Linked DNA regions of Homo sapiens. The protein of the gene in region 1 purifies or fractionates together with the protein of each later gene. This does not show direct contact. Each region holds a gene or a part of one and is shown in the gene's direction. Other genes may lie near its edges.

Region 1 (4,461 bases):
CACATTGCCTACAACAGTGGTTCCCAAAGGGTGATCCTGAGACTGGCATCATTGGTATCACCTGGAAATTTGTTAGAAATGCAAATCCTTGGGCCCCATCCCAGACCTGAATCAGAAACTATATATATATATTTTTGAGATGGAGTCTCTCTCTGTCGCCCAGGTGGAGGTGGGGTTTCGCCACGTTGGCTAGGCTGGTCTTCAACTCCTGATCTCCAGGTAATCCTCCTGCCTCGGCCTCCAAAAGTACTGGAATTACAGGAGTGAGCCACCGTGCCTGGCCATAAATCTGTTTTAACGCACCCTCCTCCAAGTGGTTCTGATGCTTACTGAAATTTGTGAAACTCTGGCCTACTCTACAAAACCCTAATGTCTTAGGATGGCATAGAAATCCTGACTGACTTTCCTACCATGTTCCTTGTCATTATTTTCTCCTCTCCTGTCCCACCCTGGCCCACCCTTCAATTTCATTCTTTCATTAGCTATCAAACCTGTATGTGTCTTTTTGTTCTAAGCACCAATAATATAAGGAAGACAGTCCAGCTCCTAACTGTCTTGCTGACCTAGGACTGGGGTGCTCCAGCCACATGACAACCCCTGGAATTAAGTACACACCATGTCATTTTAAGTGACAAGCCTCTGCCATAGCATCTCCTTCTTCTTGGTGAATTCCTATGTCTTTGGTGGCTCATTCTCAAATGTCCCTGTTCCTGAATTACTCAGAGGGCTAATCCCCAGTTTCTCTGTGCCTCCACAGCTGCCTGTCATTTCATTTATCCCAAAGTGGCATTCCCATTTGTTTACCTGTCTACTAGGATACTCCTAGAATGCAGGTAGCATGAGGGAAGAGCCTTCACTCATCTTTGTGTAGACGGCATTGTGACCCTGGTGACCAACCCTGGCACACATCAGAATCATCTGGGAGCTTTTCAAAAATATGAATGCCAGAGCTCACCCCTGAACCTACAGGAACTGAGCCTTACACATCCATATTTTAAAATGTCCCCACATCACCGTTGCACACTGTTCTGCACAGAGCAGGTATTTTTAATAGTTCTCGAATGTCTAGTCAATTACTTAGCAAGGCTGCCTGGAGAATCATGTCTACCTTAGCTTACTTCTCCGGCTTTGTAGGTTTTTGTTTTCTTTTGATTTCAGTTTCCATTTCCTCTAACTTGAAAGTATGTGCATTGGTAACAGCCACACAGCAGTCATTACTGATAAAAGGCGACATTTTGTTGAGATGATTTTAGTTATTGACCTAATCTCTGGTATTTTAAGGTTAATATATTTTTTACAGTCTCAAATATCCAGCGGTAACCTCAAATTAGAGTTGCCTGTTAAACAGTTTCTCAAGTATCTTTCAGGATTGTAGTCACTCTGCGGGCTAATCGCTCACCAGGTGTCCGTGGCTGATCCCAGTTATTCTGATTAACCTCTAAGGTGATTGTGAGACTTTAAACCGTCTCACCTGTAGCCGACCAAGCCAGCTCAAGTCAACATCCTGGGCTGTTAACCCGCGATAAGGTCGGACGGGGCCTCAGTGGAGAATACGTGGGGAAGTTCTCTGGGGCGGGCGCAGTCTGCTGCTGATTCTGAGAAACCGAAACTCAGCTGTTAAAACCGCTGCCTCTGCACTTTGGAATCCCATCTTGAGACTCGCTAAGCGTCCCAGCCGCATCCCTCCCGCAGCGACGGCGGCCCGGGACCCGCGGGCTGTGAACCATGAACACCCGCAATAGAGTGGTGAACTCCGGGCTCGGCGCCTCCCCTGCCTCCCGCCCGACCCGGGATCCCCAGGACCCTTCTGGGCGGCAAGGGGAGCTGAGCCCCGTGGAAGACCAGAGAGAGGGTTTGGAGGCAGCCCCTAAGGGCCCTTCGCGGGAGAGCGTCGTGCACGCGGGCCAGAGGCGGTGAGTATTTTAACAACCTGGCTTCGGGGCGGGAGCCCGGGCCCCAAACATACTCACTCACAAGCACCTTGGTCCTTGGAGTTTAAAACCACAGGGGCCCAACAACAGGGATTTTGACTGAATGAAAGCTCATTTGCTTAAATGAAAGTATCCATGCCGCACCTTATAAATTGAGTCGGCTAGTTTGCAGTCCTTTGGTAAATAACCAGCCCGGTTCCTTCCAGGAATACTACTTTCCTGATTTTTGTGACTGGCTACAGGATTGAAAGATATGGGTGTGTCGGAACTGCCTAGGCATCCAGTAAGATGTCATTTTCCAGGTATCTCCAGAACTCATACTCCAACCAGTATGGAAATAACTTTTCCCTTACTGTTTTTAAAAATTTGGTGCTGGGCCAGGCGCGTTGGCTCAAGCCTGTTATCCCAGCACTTTGGGAGGCCAAGGCAGGCAGATCACCTGAGGTCAGGAGTTCGAAACCAGCCTGGCCAACATGGTGAAACCCAGTCTTTACTAAAAATAAAAAATAAGCTGGGTGTGATGGCACGTGCCTGTAGTCCCAGCTACCTGGGAGGCTGAGGTAGGAGAATCGCTTGAACCCGGGAGGCGGAGGTTGCAGTGAGCGGAAATTGCGCCATTGCACTCCAGCCTGGGCAACAGAGCGAGACTGTCTCAAAACAAAACAAAACAGAAAAACAAAACTTGGTGTCCTAAACGGAATTACTGTATCAGACACTAACAGGTAAGGGTCAACAAGAAATGTGATATGGGGTAGAAGGTTCAAATTCTGCCTCTAGGTAGGAGCAAGCCTACGTCCCAGCAAGACTCGCAGATAAACTAGCCTCTTACAACCAGAGGAGTGGAGCTGAGAGAGTGAGGAGGTGAGTGACCATAGTACCTCTCATCCCTGATGTTGATATGTGCTCTATGCAGGAACAGATAGGTAGCTTTTATTCCTGGTCTTTGGTTCAGGGACTGCAGTGAGTATCCGGGAAACATTTATTAAGCAAGTGTCATGAGCCTCTCTTTCTAGCCAATGGAATGAACTTTAACTCAACAGTATGGTTTATCACAACATCACTGCCTTTGAAGTGCTGCCTCTGTGAATTGGAACTGTCCAGATGGTTTTATTTTTAGTCTCTCCTTTTTCATCGACTTCTAGTCTCTGAAAGACAAACCCTGGTTGCTAAGAAACAGTATATAACCTTATGGCCGATAAACAGTAGATTTTCTTTCATCCCTTAGCTTTTGGAAAGTACCAGGCCTTTAATATTATTATTTAGCTTAGGTTTACCCTTAGATGGGGTGGATAATCTGGAAATCAATTAGAGATTGTTGCATTTCTTTCCTCCTCAGAATAATTAGTGTCTCGCCACAGTAGAAGCAGCCAATTACTTTCAAGTAACCCACGTATCTACAAGCTATAGTACTTAACAGTAACAAAGGTCACAGACATATGGTCTCGTGTCCATGAATAGTTAACGATGAACATGATTTGCATGACTTTTTTCTGTTAAAAAGCATTTATTTAGATACAACCATTTATTTCTAAGCTCATATCATCGCATAAGTATTAACTGTTGCATCTGTTTTCTTATTTGGTTGTAATTACCCTGGAATCTTGCCAGATCAAATTGCTCAGAAAGAGGCAGCTTTCTGATGGGTTATCCAGGCCTTAATACCCTGAAGAGCTCACTGTACACTATTTTGCGATTCCTGAAAAGATTTTCAAATGAACCATTAAAAAAATACCAGGAAGTGTTTAGTTATCTCTCACAGAGTCTTCCTTTTTTTTTTTTTTTTTCCTCATGTGAACCAGTTGCAGTAAGTACAGAATTATATATTCCCTTTTAGGGGTTTGATGTCTGAGATCCTGTTGGGATGACTTTGAATTTTTGTTGCATCTCCATTAGTTACTTAGATTCACTTTCTCACTTGTTTCCTTTAATGAAGTTGGAAAACCAAGGAAAATGAATGGCAAATATCTCAGTAGAATTAGCTGCCTACCCGCTGCCCCAAAATAAAGAAGGCTTTATTTATTTTGGGGATAAAAATTAGAAACACTTTCTGATTTAAAAAAATGAAGAGGCCGGGCATGGTGTCTCACGCCTGTAATCCCAGCACTTTGGGAGGCCGAGGAGGGCGGATCACGAGGTCAGGAGATGGAGACCATCCTGGCTAACACAGTGAAACCCCGTCTCTACTAAAAATACAAAAAATTAGCTGGGCATGGTGGCAGGCGCCTGTAGTCCCAGCTACTTGGGAGGCTGAGGCAGGAGAATGGCGTGAACCCGGGAGGCAGAGCTTGCAGTGAGCCGAGATCGCGCCACTACACTCCAGCCTGGGCGACAGAGTGAGACTCTGTCTCAAAAACAAAACAAAACAAAACAAAAAGCAAAAAAAAAAAAAAAAGAAAAAAGAGGATAAAGTGCTTTAATAGTACAGTTTCATTTGTCCACTCATAATGTGAATTTATTTATATGGTAAAAGATTTGTCTTGTTTTGTGGGAATCCTTCCATTAATTTCCTCCTGCAGCCCCAGTGTGGGGA
Region 2 (4,583 bases), on another chromosome or scaffold:
ATAGCAATTAAAAAACACAAAGAAGCGATATAGCATAACAACTGTTTACACAGCATTTATATCAGGTATTATAAGTAATCTAGAAATGATTTGTACTACAGAATGTGTATAGTCTATATGTAAATATTATGCCATTTTATGTAAAGAACTTGAACACTGGCTGGGGTGATGTTCTGGAACCAATACCCCATGGATACGGAAGGACAACTGTATATACACCTGCATATATAAACTATATATTTACAAGGCCAGAAATTGTTGAGGGTGCCCAGCACAGTAACTGGCACGAAGTAAGTCATCATAATAGTTGTATTAGCGTTGCCTTCATAGGTGGTGATTTGGAGAATCTATTCTAGGTGGGTACAGCAATGGAGGCTTTGGTCCAGTTTGTCTAGGGTCATGGTGGTGAGAAATAGCAGACAAGCCTGAAAGGATGATTTGGGGCTTTCCTTGCCCCAAAGAGAGAGAGAGACAGAAAATCCTTGCACCGGATGATATCAATGCTGTGCCTCTGAATGTCCATTTGGAAAGCCAGTCCTGTGCTTCCAAAAACAGGATATTCAACACCTTGAAGAGGTGTGGTAATTGCACATCTTACTTTTTACGTTTTAGGAAGTCTACAGAGAGTGGGGCTGAAAAGTTTGGGAAGAACAGGTAGGCATGTGGGGAGGGCAAAAGAACAGAAATAACATGCACAAGCATTTTTCTAGGAAAATTTTAGGGAAAGCTAAGTGATGTAAAGTTACACTTAAAAGACTACACATTTTCGGCCGGGCGCAGTGGCCGAATCCCGGCAAAAGTAATCCCGGCACTTTTGGGGGCCGAGGCCTGGGGAACACGAGGTCAGGAGTTCGAGACCAGTTGGCCAACACGGCAAAACCCCGTCTCTACTAAAAATTAGCCGGGCGTGGTGGCAGACACCTGTAATCCCAGCTACTCGGGAGGCCGAGGCAGGAGCATCGCTTGAAACCGGAAGGCGGAGGTTGCAGCGAGCCCAGATCGCGCCACCGCACTCCAGCCTGGGCGACAAGAGCGAAACTCCGTCTCAAAAACAAAACAAAACAAAAACTACACATTTTCGCACTTTAAGGGCTCAACGGCTGTATTCCCACTCCTTTGCCACTCTCTTTGCTCTTTTCCGCTCTAGAAAGAATTAATGAACTGGATCAAATCTAAGTTCTCCACGTTACAGATGGGAAGCCTCCGGGCCAAGGAGGCCAATGGTTACACAAACCAGGTAAGAAAATAAAATATGCCCAGTAAGTTCATAGGACCGGCGGGCTTAGATTTCGAATGCGCGTGACTCTGTCAACTGTGGACTTAACCCTATGCAGAGATTAGAGGAGAGAATAGTCAAACACGGATAAGTTAACATTTACCGAACAGTCCGTCCTACCCTGGGGTAGGTTTTATTAACAGTCTCGTTTTGCAAAGGAAGACAGCTGCCAGTTGTCTCAGATCGCACGGGCATGCCGCGCAGATGGGCTTCTGAGCAGCTCAGGGCCAGCCAGAGGTCTGGCGAGAAGGGCGTAATTAAACGAACCCGCGCCGGTTTCCTCAGGGCCCCCCGGGGCTCCGCTTCGCCCCAGCGGGCCTCGGCGGGGCTGGGAAACCGGCTGAGGTTCGCCTCACGGTGGGGAGGAGCGACGGGAGGCGGAAGCCCTTCGGTCCGGGCCCCGCCCCCGCACTCGCCCTCGCCCCGCCGCGACTTCCCATTCGCCGCCAACCCATGTGCGTTGGTGACGTCACCGCGTTCACCAGCCCGGAAGTGCGCGTGGCGGCGGTGGCGGCTGCGGCAACAGCGGGGCCGGTAAGCGGGCGCGCGCCGCTCAGAGGGGCAGAGTTGGTGGCGTGAGTTGCTGCCCCTTCCTTCCTGCTGTGGGCCAGAGGCGCCACCGCGCCCGGTCCTCGAGGAAGACGGGAGCGGGACGTGGCGAGAGGCCTCCTCAGCAGTGGGCAAAATAGCCCCGACGCGGAGGTCGTGTCCCCGCCACGTTTCCGGCGACCGCAGGCGCGGATTCCTTGGCTTCCCTCAGCACTTTCCCCTCCGCGCGGACGGCCCCGAGACGCTTTTTCACTGGGCCTTGTCGCCAGCACCCGGCGTGGGGGGTGAGACGCGCCTTTTCAGGGCTGGGGTTCCCCAGAGCGTTTTCCTAAGTCGAGGCGGAGGTGCGAGGAAACTGAGTGGGTCTTTCCGCCCCACGTGGCCTGCCGGGAAGCGCGGCTCCTCCACCCGCTTCCGTGGAATGGAATGGTTTTTCTCTGCAGGTTTACACCGGGGTCACTCGAGAGCTGCTGCGGCCTCCTTATGGGCAGGACCCCCGTATGGGGAGAACGAGGATGTGATATGTAGAAGGGAAGGCCGCGGTGTGCCAGAAATCAGAGGAGATTGCAAGATGGCAGGAAAAGAATCAGGAAAATGGGGGCAGCAAAACTAAATTCATGGGAAAATACAATGTCTAGGAGCTATCCCAGGGTCGTGAATCCTCGAGTGCAGGTGGGGAAGTAGGGTGATACCCACCTGTGACCATGACAAGTTTTGGAGACCAGAAACTCGGTTAGAGTTTCTAGAACCCCGCATCCCTCTCATACTGCCTGAAGCCCTGCTCTGGGGAGAGTGTCATCACAGTACCATGTGGCATGCGAGTGTCGTGGTAATGCTCCCCGACCAAACCACCAAACCGAGGGTTGGGCTGCTTATTCTCGCTGCCCAATAATGAGATGCAGATAAACTAGGAAAGAAAGGAGTTTATTTCTGTAACCAGGTACGGGGCGAAGGCGTGGAAAATATCCCAGACCGACTCAGAATTACAGAGCTTTCCAGAGCTTATATACCTTGTAAGTTGTATGTTTATGTGTAAGTGTGCATTGATCTAAAGATACAAGTGATTAACTTCTTACCCATAAGATCTGAGTCCTGAAGACCTTCCTCTGGAGCCTGAGTAAATTTACTTAATCTAAATGGGTCCAGGTGCTGGGGTGATTACCCTTATATTCTCTCCTGCTAAATCATGGAGGTTTGGGGAGTTCCCTCAGACCCCTAATAAACTTGTTCGTGGAGGCCTGGGGAGTTTCCTCAGATCCCCAGTAAAACTTGTTTAATTCTAAACGGGTCCTGTTAAGAATTCCTTTGTGGCCGGGCTCAGTGGCTCACGCCTGTAATCCCAGCACTTTGGGAGGCTGAGGCGGGCAGATCACTTGAGGTCAGGAGTTCGAGAGCAGTCTGGCCAACGTGGTAAAACCCCGTCTCTACCCAGAAGTATAAAAAATTAGCCGGATGTGGTGGTGTGCGCCTGTAATCCCTGCTACTTGGGATGCTGAGGCAGGAGAATCTCTTGAACCCAGGAGGCAGGGGTTGCAGTGAGCTGAGATCGCGCCACTGCACTCCCGCCTGAGCGACAGAGCGAGACTCCATCTCAAAAAAAAAAAAAAAAAAAAAAAGAATTCCTTTGTTATTTTATCATGCTTCAAGGTCCAGGAAAGGCCTAGGCAAAACTCTTGGGGGGCTTTTGTTACATTCTAGCCTTGTTTAAGGGCACTGGCTGGCTCTTTCAGCTTTTAATATGTAACTCAACCAGTCAGTCAGTACTGAAACAGTTATGGAGGCCTGCGCTAGTGAGACCCCGCCTGCCACAGTAAGTGCTTCTGGAGAACAAAACCAGGTAGATACATAGACCTAGTCGTAATCCCTCAAACTGACACCGTTTTCAGTTTTTTCATCTGAACAAGAGATGAATTTCTGAGTTGATAAACTTGAAATGTGTCCCCCTTTGTTTTCCTTCACTTACCTTCACTTTTAATTTCATTGGTATGCCTGTGTATTTGCCTTGTAGATGTGTAGTTGGTGACTGCCTCTCCAGATGCTGAGGTGCCTGTATCATTGGCACAGGCCAGTGCTGAACCGTAGGTGGAGTAGGCTGTGCCTTCCGAAGCAGTATCTATTCACAATGAAGTTGCAGTCTCCCGAATTCCAGTCACTTTTCACAGAAGGACTGAAGAGTCTGACAGGTGAGAGATTAGGATACCTTTTCTTGATTGGAAACCTATATAAATGGAGAAGTAGAGGGTTAACTTTTTAAGCCAGCATTCGGATATTTTCATTGTTGTTTTAATTATTTTTATTAAAAAACGTAAGTAGAGGGTCTCTTTGTGTTGCCCAGGCTGGTCTCAAAACTCCTGGGCTCACTCCTTGGCCTCCCAAAATGCTGGGATTACAGGTGTGAGCCACGGTGCCCAATGTGCACGTTTTCATTGTTGGAAGAAAGGCTTGGCTGGGTGTACCCAGCCTGTAATCTCTTGGGGAGGCCAAGGTAGGAGGATTGTTTGAGCCCAGGAGTTTGAGGCTGCAGTGAGCTATGATCATGCCACTCTAGCCTGGGCAACAGAGTGAGACCCTGTCTCAAAAAAAGAGAAAGGAATATTAAAAGAGAAAGGCTTACATATGGCTGATCCAAAAATATAGCTAAATCACTGGAAAAGGCAAGAAGTTGACTGCAGTAAAAAGCATGGCTTTTCTGTATGCTGTGCTAAGTACTTGCCATTCATTACAGGACTGGTGCTACTAACTTAATGAGTACGCACAT

What was found.
Region 2: the proteins of EPSTI1 (region 1) and TRNT1 purify together in Homo sapiens (affinity purification with mass spectrometry; one large-scale study listed by BioGRID and IntAct). This does not show direct contact.

The regions. Positions count from the first base shown.
Region 1 is NC_000013.11:42,989,430-42,993,890, reverse strand, and holds the start of EPSTI1 (epithelial-stromal interaction protein 1), read left to right. Parts: upstream 1-1,649; 5' UTR 1,650-1,725; coding exon 1,726-1,913; intron 1,914-2,708; exon of another isoform or gene 2,709-2,792; intron 2,793-4,461. UniProt on the Homo sapiens protein: Plays a role in M1 macrophage polarization and is required for the proper regulation of gene expression during M1 versus M2 macrophage differentiation.
Region 2 is NC_000003.12:3,125,181-3,129,763, forward strand, and holds the start of TRNT1 (CCA tRNA nucleotidyltransferase 1, mitochondrial), read left to right. Parts: upstream 1-1,759; 5' UTR 1,760-1,810; exon of another isoform or gene 1,811-2,838; intron 2,839-3,833; 5' UTR 3,834-3,860; coding exon 3,861-4,008; intron 4,009-4,583. UniProt on the Homo sapiens protein: Nucleotidyltransferase that catalyzes the addition and repair of the essential 3'-terminal CCA sequence in tRNAs, which is necessary for the attachment of amino acids to the 3' terminus of tRNA molecules, using CTP and ATP as substrates. tRNA 3'-terminal CCA addition is required both for tRNA processing and repair.